Regions from separate parts of the Homo sapiens genome. Here region 2 is linked to region 1. The links come from fine-mapping of genetic effects on gene expression. Tissue or cell type: whole blood. Region 1 holds a variant in brackets; the other region holds the start of a gene. All regions are shown on one strand. Distances are between the middles of the regions.

Region 1 (5,259 bases):
GTGGCCTTGGGGAGGGAACCAGGCAGACCTGGAAGTGGAACTTTGTTGTTAGCACCAGGAGCCGCCCACAGCTGGGCTCGGCAACAGGGCAGCACATGGCCCTGTTGCCTCCACCTGAGAGTCTGGGGAGGGGCTGGTGGCAGAAGGCTCCCTGCAGGAGGTCACCTGAATGACTCTCAGATTCACAGACCCCCTCTGCCCCCACAACCCCTGTAAACATGAGAATGGGCTCGTGACACCCTCAACACCTCAGGACAAGATGAGGGTCCGAGATGTGTGGCTGGGCTTCAGGCGGCCCAGGAGCTGCCGGGCTTTCTCCTGCATGAAAAGCTGGTCCCTGGTCCCCCCGCAGGCCACCGTCTTCCAGGCACTGGACATCTGGGAGGAGGCAAGAGGGTTACCATCCAGGCAGGGACTATGTGTTCCCAACAGACCCTGGTGATCCTGGCCAGGGAAGGGTAGAGTTATAAGCCTCCCTCCCCTAGAAGCCAGAGCCTTCTTATTCTCTCTCCACATTCCCTGTGACCCTGGACAAGTCACTTCCTGGCTGTGGGCTTCCTCAACTGTAAGTAGGACGCTGGACAAGGAGACATGGCCATGCACTGCCCGCCCCGTGCAGCACCAGCCTCGAGGAGAAGCCACAGCCAGGAGGCGGGTGAGAAGGAGCAGTGAGACGGGTCAGCAGCCTGAAGCCAGCCCCTGCTTGAGGACAGACATGTACTAAGCAAACCAAATACAGGGATAATGACTTAGTTACAAGTGAAACCCAGGCCACAAAAGAGAGAATGGCAGAATGGGGGTATCTCTACAGAATGTAGGGTCAGAGAAGGCTTACCCCTAAGGAAGCAGCATTGAGACTGAAATCAGAAGAGTAAGTTAAGCAAATGCAGCCACGGGAAGTAGCAGGAAAAGCACCCAGGCAGAGGAACAGCCTATGCAAAGGCCCTGAGCTAAGAAGGCGGGCACTGCAGGACCCCCAGGGATGGCCAGCACTCAGCCCTGAGCTAAGAAGGCGGGCACTGCAGGACCCCCAGAGATGGCCACAGCACTCACAGGGGCAGGTGTCGTGAAGTGGCTTCGGGGCTTCTGGGCCACTGCTGCCTTCTCGGGCTTGGCCTGCAAGAAGCCCTGGTTGAGCAAGCTGTTGTCTTCTTTGATACCTGACAGGGTGAGGCTGGAAGAGTTTGAAGGGGCAGTTGTCGGCTGAAACCAAAACCAAGTCAAGGAGTCACCATTTTGCGAGAAGCTGTGAGAGGGAAGAAAAAAACCCGCAATCCCACCCCAGCACCACCACCTGGCTGCTGAGACCTGAAAGAGGATACACACTTTTCCAAGCCTCAGTTTCTGCTTTCAGATAGGGAGTTTACATGAGCTTAAGCTTACTTTATACTTAAAAGATTAAGCAAAGGGCCAGGAGCGGTGGCTCACGCCTGTAATCCCAGCACTTTGGGAGGCCGAGGCAGGCGGATCACGAGGTCAAGAGATCGAGACCATCCTGGTCAACAGGGTGAAACCCCGTCTCTACTAAAAACACAAAAATTAGCTGGGTGTGGTGGTGGGCGCCTGTTGTCCCAGCTACTTGGGAGGCTGAGGCAGAAGAATGGTGCGAACCTGGGAGGAGGTGGAGCTTGCAGTGAGCCGAGATTGCACCACTGCATTCCAGCCTGGGAGACAGAGCCAGACTCCGTCTCAAAAAAAAATTAAGCAAAGAACTTAATCTTGTTCTAAAGAACTTTCTTACTTAAAAAAAAAAAATCAAGTAATCAAGTAAAGAAACGTGTGTGCGTTTCAGAGCCTGATTCAGTGGTGTGTCTGGAGGCACAGTCAAGTACGTGGGGGCACATCAGCCCTGGGATGGGTGCCGTGCAGCCCCCAGGCCATAATAACATAATCAATAAATGTGGAGTATCACTGAGCATTATCCAGTAATAACATACTCAATAACGTTGGCTTTGTCACATAAAGCCTCAGGAGGAGCCAAGGCTGTTCCTAGTTTTCCTGGGACCAGAAACATCCACAAGCATCATAAAGACGCAGCTTCAACCCCAAGCACAGCGGAGTTGCACAAAGCCCCTCCCACGCCCTTCCAGTCTCTCTGCTCTGCTTGGCACTGTGCCCTCCTGACTTAGGCTTGGCACCCCTTTTATAGGCTTTTAACTGGGGCTCAGGGAACCTGAAAGATCCCAGAGAGCAGTGATGGTGTCATAACTCAAACCCAGGCCCACCTGACTCAATCTGTGCTCTTCACTCCCTGCGGTGATGTTTTTTTCTTTGCAGTAACCTGGCTGCAGGTCCCCAGCCTGTCAGAGACCCCTAGCCAGGACAAGGTTTCTCTGCAAGGACCGTGAGGGCAGCAGTCTACTTGGAAGATCAGGCAACCCTTAACCTTTGTTCATGACGCCGCCATGCCTCTCACCGCCTCCCCACTCTGAGCCAGGGCAAGCCAACTCACCCCATTGTGAGCAGAGAGGGATCAGCAGCACACCCTGGCTTCTGGGGACCCAGGCTCTGCACAGGCAACAACCCCCTTTCTGAGGTCGACCTCACTGTAGCACCCGGCACAGCAAGTCCACTGGCCTGGGGGCTGTATAGCACCCATCCCAGGACTAATGTGCCCAAGTGCCTGGCTATACCTTAAGACACATTACTAGGCTGGGCACGGTGACTCACGCCTGTAATCCCAGCACTCTGGGAGGCCGAGGCAGGCAGATCACCTGAGGTGGGGAGTTCGAGACCAGCCTGACCAACATGGAGAAACCCCGTCTCTACTAAAGATACAAAATTAGCCGGGCGTGGTGATGCATGCCTGTAATCCCAGCTACTTGGGAGGCTGAGGCAGGAGAACAACTTGAACTCGGGAGACGGAGGTTGCAGTGAGCCGAGATGGCACCATTGCACTCCAGCCTGGGCAACAAGAGCGAAA[T/C]TCCAATTCAAAAAAAAAAAAAGAAAAAAAAAGACACATCACTGACCCTCTCTGGGAGAGCGCAGGAGACCCAGATGCATGTTTTTAAAACATGTCCTAGCCGCGCAACTCTGCCAAACAAAACCTTCTGTGAGAGACAAGCAGAGCTGCTGACTGAAGCCATGAGTGGGTGCCCGGACCCACCCTCCCTGATAGCCCCTCCCTGCAGAGCCCAGGGTTCCAGAAGCCCAGTTGGAGAGTCACTACACTAACTCCACCTTGAGGGTCCTCTCCAAAACTCAACAGTTCCAAGGAGCAGAAGCCTTACCAAGGATAGAGACTTGGGCAGTGTGGACATCATCAGCTTCACATCCTCATCCACAATGTCAAGAGCCAGAGACTTCCGGACTTTCTTGATGGGGCTCCGCCGCAGCTAGGGGTTGGCAGATAGAAGGGGGTTAGGGTGAGTGTCTGGATTCCCCATGGTCAGCACCTGGATGGTCATGGCCATGGATGGTCACAAAACCAGGCCCTGCTGCAGTGCAGACTTGGAGCAAGGCCCAGCTAGTGGGAATCTGCTGTCAGAAGAATGGGGTGGCTGGGAAAGTTAGGCCCCATGGCCCCATTAGACTCTGTACCCAAGGTAGACCCTATCCTGCCAGGTGCTGCGACAGTGAGCAGGAACACAGCATGAACCTCCACCACGAAGTGACCTGTTCTCACCCCGAATGGACCAGACACAGCCCCTCAAACAGGCCCAGCAGAGAATCACCCCAGTAACACCTAAAATAGCACCCACAGGCCAGTAATATGGGAACACAAACCCCTCAGGACAAGCCCCTCTACAATGCCTAATACAATCAAGGAACGCCCCATTCCTAACCGTGCACCTCACAGAAGCAGGTCCAGGGCCTGCTCCGATACCAGGGAGCGGCTCTGAGAGTCACATCCCCACTCTACCCAACAGTGCACTCAGCAGGGGCTGCCATGGCTCACAACCATCCCCACCAAGGAGAGGCCAGGGAGGACCCTGGAGGCCAGAGGCCAAGTTCTCTCCACGTGCACATGGGGTGCCAGCTCGGGCAAGTCCCGCCCAGGCTGACCGCCCACCTCCCCTCCTTACCTAACACCCTGTACATCCCACCGTTCCCAGCTCTCCCTTGAGGAGAGCAGTCTGGGAAAAAGGAGCACTAGGAGACTCGAAGGGATCGCGCACTGTCATGAAAGCTAACGACGCAGTGGGAGGGAGGCTGGCATAGAACGGAGGCTTGGGACAGTCCCTTCCCTGCCCCCCTGCCCAGGAGCCCCTGCAGACTCCACCTCACCTGAACCCACTCCCCCACCCCCAGCTCATGCAGCTTGACACTCAGCCAGGCACTGCCTGGCCTGGCTGGCTCATCCCGACCGCCTCGCCTCCACCCAAAAGATTCCTTTGGAACCTCCCTTTCTGCGGCCCTTGGTACCCTGTGAATTCAGTCATGGTGTGTCTGTCTAGCATCTGTCTCTGCCCCCTGAACACTAAGGGGAGATCCAGTCTGGGTCGTAATTGCTGCTCCATCCACCACATCCAGCCCAGCCCAACTTGAGCAGGGTCCGAACACAATGCTGGATAAGTAAGTGAATCCTTCAAAGCAGAGCAGAGGAGGGTCCCAGAGACACTGTCCTTATCTTGTCAGTTTCCTCAACAACCACCGTGCGAAAGGGGGCAAAGGGGATATGCTACGCCCCCATTCTCCCCAGCGCCTCACTTTCTACAACCTGTCCCCAGACGCCTCCCCCATGCCACGGCTCCAATTCCCCCTGCCCAGGCTCTCCCACCCCTACCCTACTCACCCCAGGCTTCCTCTTCTGCTTCTCGGGCCTGATGTCGTCCTCGATGATGAGTTCGATGCCAGCCTCAGAACGCAGCACCTCCTTCAAGTCCTCCTCCAGGTGCGGGGTCTGTGGCTGTGGGTAGGCACGGGGCAGCCCACGTGAGGCACCACACTCGGGCTGTGTGTGTGTGGGACTGTGGGACCAACCCAGCTGCAACTGGGCTGTCCTGGGTAAGGCAGGAAGGAGGCCTGACGCCAGGATGCAGATCTCACACGCACCATTCACAACCACTAACTGCTGCCTTGGACAAGCAGCTGATGACCTTGATTCCCAGGGGCCTGCCATGGCTGGGAGCAGCCCAGAGACGCACTGTAACCCTCACACAGCCCTGTGCAGTAACCGTCATTTTAAGCAGGTAGAAACAGAAGCTCAGAGATCAACAGCCTGGCACACAGTCACACAGCTGCTGAATTAGGACCCCGACAGCTCAAAGCCCAGGCTCACTCAACCCTTTGTTCCACACTAATGGGGGCTCTCAAACC
Region 2 (5,000 bases), 47 kb after region 1:
GTAATCCCGACACTTTGGGAGGCCAAGTGGGGGAGAATCCCTGGAAGCCAGGAGTTCGAGACCAGCCTGGGTAACATAGTGAGGTGAGACACAACGCGAGGCCACTCCCGCCCCCTTCCATCTCTACACAAAATAAAACACGCCAGACGCGGTGGCTCACGCCTGTAATCCTAGCACTCTGTGAGGCCAAGGCAGGCGGATTGCCTGAGCAACACAGTGAAACCCATCTCTACTAAAAATCCAAAAAATTAGCCAGGCGTGGCGGCGTGTGCCCATAGTCCCAGGTACTTGGGAGGCTGAGACAGAATTCCTTGAACCCGGGAGGCAGAGGCTGCAGTGAGCCGAGATTGTGCCACTGCACTCCAGCCTGGGCAACACAGAGTGGCTCTGTCTCCTAAATAATTAAATAAATTAGCCAGTTGTGGCGGCCCGTGCCCATAGTCCCAGCTACTCAGCCTGCAGTCCCAGCGGGCTGAGTTGGGAAGATCACTTGAACCTGGGAGGTTGGGGCTACAGTGAGCTATGACAGCACCACAGCACTCCGGCCTGGACTGCAGACGGAGACCCTGCCTCAAAAAAAAAAAAAAAAAAAACCAGGGCAGGGTCTGATAGGCGCCTGAACAGAAAACTCTTCCTGGACATTGGCCTGGGAAAGTGGGGCCTGAGGAACACAGTCCCTGTGCTCAGATCCCTATCCTCAGCCTGAAAGGGCAAAAATCTAGAGGGATGGAAGGCTTCATCTTTAGATGAGGCTATCGTCTAAAGAGGGACCGAAGTTTGGCCGGGCAAGGTGGCTCACGCCTGTAATCCCAGCACTTTGGGAGGCCGAGTCGGGCGGAACACAAGGTCAGGAGATCGAGACCATCCTGGCTAACATGGTGAAACCCTGTCTCTACTAAACATACAAAAAATTAGCCCGACGTGGTGACACGTGCCTGAAGTCCCAGCTACTCGGGAAGCTGAGGCAGGAGAATCGCTTGAACCTGGGAGGCGGAGGTTGCAGTGAGCCAAGATCGCGCCACTGCACTCCAGCCTGGGCATCAGAGCGAGACTCCTTCTCAAAAAAAAAAAAAAAAAAAAAAAAGAGGGAACGAAGGTTATCTGAGCTGCAGCGATCCAGGCAGGGAAGAGGTCAGGACCCCACTGTCCTGTCTCCCAGGCAGGCTGAAAAGCTTGGAGCTCAGGCCCCAGGCGCACAGGTGTAAGACAGGGATCTGGAGCCACAGACCTGGCTCCGGGCTCAGCTCTGCCACTTAAGTCTCTGGGGAAATAAGTAAAATGGAGACCGCAGTTCCTGCCTTTGCCCCAGGGACTCTCTCTCTCCCCCGCACCTTCAACCCCAGCTGCCCAAAACTCCTCGTGGGAACAGGAAGAGAGGTCTCAAACCGAACCAAGCTGGGGCGCGGAACCCAGGTGGGAGAGACAAAAGAGCCCCCAACTCAGCACCCTTCTCAGTCCAGGGGAGAGGGCTTGGGGGACTCTGTGCTCCCCGGAATGTTAAGGAGCAAAGCCCACCCACCAAGTTGACCCAAAACTAGGCTGCAACAAGTGCCTCCCAGGCTCGGTCTCCCACTGGCTGGGACTTGAAGACTCCCTCTCGCTCCCAGGGGTCGCCTCCCTCGCCGGCGAAGGCCCTGCCAGCTGACACCGGCCGGCCCACCCCCATCCCGCAATTAGGCGGGAGACAAAATGACATCATGCACGGCTTGGCCCGGGTCCCAAGAGACCCGCCCGTCCCAGCTCCGAGGCCCAACAGGCCTGGGGAGCCGCGAGGGACGCCCAAGAGCCCCCCAGCTTTACGCGCGCCCCTGCCTCAGAGGGCCCAGGACGCAGCATTTCCGCGGAAACACCCCACCCCCAACACACACACACACCCCAGCTTGGTGGGAGCCTGGGGAGGGTCGGGGGTATCTGGGTGGGGGAGGGGTGAGTTAAAGGGAGGGGGAGGGGCCCAAGCCCTCCCGGCTCGTCTCACCAGCGCGTCCGCCGAGACATCCCCCCGGCCCGGACCGCGCCGCGCTCGCCCGCCCGCCGGCAGAGCCCGGAGCGGGAGCCGGGCCGGGGTCAGGACCCGGGCTGCTCCGGCCGCTCCGGGCCCCGGGCCGCGCTCGAAGGCGTCAGCGTGTCAGCAGGTCCCGCGCTCCTCGCTCGCAGGAACTGCAGTCGCCGCCGGCGCGGGTTGAAGCACTTTTCTATCTCCCGCCAAGCGCGTCGGCGCCGCCCAGTCCTGGCGCGCGGGCGCCGGGGGAGGGGCCTGAGTGAGGGGCGGAGCCAGGGGGCGGGGCGGGGCGGGGCCTGCGGGGCGGCACCTGCCCAGACCCTCCAGGGCCGGCTGCAGGACAGGGGCGGCGGCCGCTACTTCGGAGTTGTGGAGCGGGCCGGGATGTGACCGAGGCCTGGCTCACGTGTCAGTCCGGGGCGGCCCAGGAGTATCCCACATAGCGAAGACCGAGGAAGGGGAGCGAGGCGCGAGCATGGGAGAGCCAGCCAGGGAAAGCGCCAGGGCGGAATCCCCCACGCTAGTCCAAGCCACTACTGGGTCCCTAGAGCCGCACCCTAAAGCGGCTCCTCACCCTACCTGTGCCTCTCCCTGCTTCCTCTCCTGCCTCCAAGAGACCCTCCTTAATAGACTTTATTTTTTGTTGTTCATTTTTCTTAGAGGCAGGGTCTTGCTCTGTCGCCCAGGCTGGAGTGCAGTTTCGCGATCATAGCTCACTGCAACCTCCACCTCCTAGGCTCAAGCGATCCTCCTACCTCAACTCACGGGTAGCTAAGACCAGGCACTCGCCACTACACCCGGCTGATTTTTTTTTTTTTTTTTTTTGAGACGGTGTCTCGCTTTGTCGCCAGGCTGGAGTGCAGTGGCGCGATCTTGACTCACTGCAACCTCCACCTCCCGGGTTCAAGCGACTCCCCCGCCTCAGCCTCCCAAGTAGCTGGAACTACAGGCGCACACCACCACGCCCGGCAATTTTTTTTTTTTTTTTTTTTTTTTTTTAGTATTTTAGTAGAGACGAGGTTTCACCATGTTGGCCAGGATGGTATAGGTCTCCTGACCTCGTGATCCGCCCGCCTCGGCCTCCCAAAGTGCTGGAATTACAGGAGTGAGCCACTGCGCTTTTTTTTTTTTTTTTAAGAGAAGGGGGTGTCTTGCTATGTTGCTGTTGCCTAGACTGGTCTAGAAACTCCTGGGCTCAAGAGATCCTGCCGCTTTGTCCTCCCAAAGTGCTGGGATTGCAGGCGTGAGCTCTTTCCAGAATTTAAAACCATCCTCCTCTCCCTCAGGGTAAATTCCTTACTCCACAATCACATTTATCTGATCTTCCAGACCACCACCCAGCCCTGGCCAAAAGAAACGGCCTCTTTGCCTTTGCCTGAGCCATTACCCAGGGCAGGAACACTTCCTGCCCCTCCCACGTGGCTGATTCCTATTTAATTTGGGGTCCACTGCCCACAATCTGCCTGTAGACTTCTGCATTTCCCCCTTTGAACTGGGAGCATCCTGAGGTCCAGGTGGCCTCTCAATGCACACCAGTATCTCCAGGGCCCAGTAGAAGACCTGACATAAGAAGCCCCAGGCAAAGGTTTGTTGCATTGAATTGTTTACCTTGGGTTTAAACTCCCAGAGATTAGCCCAGATTTAGTGGCTCATGCCAGTAATCCTAGCAGTTTGGGAGGCCGAGGTGGGAGAACTGATTCAGTCCAAAAGTTTGAGACCAGCCTGGGGATCAGAGTGAGACCCTGTCTTTACAAAAAATTAAGAAATTACCTGGCTGTGGTGGTGAATGCCTGTAATCCCAGCTACTTGGGAAGCAGAGGCAGGAGGATTGCTTGAGCCCAGGAGTTCGAGGGGCTCAAGCCCTTGTCATCCCGCCACTGCACTCCAGCCTGGGCGACAGACAGTGAGACTGTCTTTCCTTGAGATTTAGCAAAGGTTTTCTATATTAGATTGACATTTACCAAGTACCAAGGATCAAGTCACACTGGACTTCCTGGGAGCAGTGCTGAGAGGAAGATAAATGAGCTCTGAGACAGGACGCTGAAGAAACCAAATCAAACCCCAGCCTTTTAGCCCCTGTTCAGGCCTCAGAGCCCCCTTCCAGAAGCTGCTGGCCACCTGGGGACAGTCCAGCCACCAGCTGCTGCAAACTTCACTTACCACAGAAGGAAGACTAACTCACATCTTAAGTGCTAGAAGCTTCCACATCACTTAATTCAGGGTTTCTCCCGCCCACTCCCCTTATAAAGTAATTAATGTGGACATGCCCACTTCATTGAAAGCACAGCCTCCACAGCCAAACTTCCTGGGGTTTGAGTCCCAGCTCCACCATTCAGTTGCGGTATCTTAGGCAAATTACTTAACTTTTTTTTTTTTTTTAGACCAAGTCTTGCTTTATTGCCCAGACTGGAGTGCAGTGGTGTGATCTTGGCTCACTGCAACCCCCACTTCCCGGATTCAAATGATTCTCCCACCTCAGCCTCTCGAGTAGCTAGGACTACAGGAATGCGCCAGCATGCCTGGCTATTTTTTGTATTTTTGTAGAGATGGGTTTTCATCATGTTGGCCAGGCTGGTCTTGAACTTCTGACCTCAGGTGATCTACCCGACTCAGACTCCCAAAGTGCTGGGATTACAGGCATGAGCCATCATGCCCAGCCAATTACCTAACTCTTCTGTGCCTCAGTTTTCTCACCTGGAAAAATGGGATTTATCAAAATTTTAGATAGTTTTTAAACTATCAGCCTCCCAAGTAACTGGGGTTACAGGAGCACGCCGCCATGCCCAGCTAATATTTCCAGCCAGCATTCTGTTTATAAATTGTAACTCATTTAATCCTTGTAACAACTCTATGAGGTAGATACTGGGATTATCCTCTTTTAGCAGATGGGAAAACTGAGGCACAGACTTCCCCAAGGTCACAGTGCTAGTAAATGGCAGAGCAGGGATTCAAACCTGGCCTGTCTAGTTCTAGAGTCTATGCTCTTAATCACTATACTTTG

The links. PIP is the estimated chance that this variant, and not a neighbour inherited with it, causes the effect.
Region 2: MYBL2 starts here. The variant in region 1 is the best candidate, but not a certain one, in a credible set for the expression of MYBL2 in whole blood (TOPMed, PIP 0.85).

What each region holds. Positions count from the first base shown.
Region 1 is chr20:43,711,078-43,716,336 of GRCh38, reverse strand. It overlaps MYBL2 (MYB proto-oncogene like 2), which reads right to left. Exons shown (of 14, transcript NM_002466.4): 11 at 4,736-4,849; 12 at 3,231-3,335; 13 at 1,054-1,203; 14 at 1-378. The coding sequence ends at 250. Among named protein-coding and RNA genes, the nearest start is that of GTSF1L, 13 kb to the left of the region's middle. RefSeq lists an enhancer at 5,186-5,255. The variant T/C (reference allele first, on the strand shown) is at 2,924.
Region 2 is chr20:43,664,279-43,669,278 of GRCh38, reverse strand. It overlaps MYBL2 (MYB proto-oncogene like 2), which reads right to left and starts at 2,165. Exons shown (of 14, transcript NM_002466.4): 1 at 1,976-2,165. The coding sequence starts at 1,995. RefSeq lists enhancers at 1,260-1,309, 2,076-2,370 and silencers at 1,960-2,339, 2,076-2,370.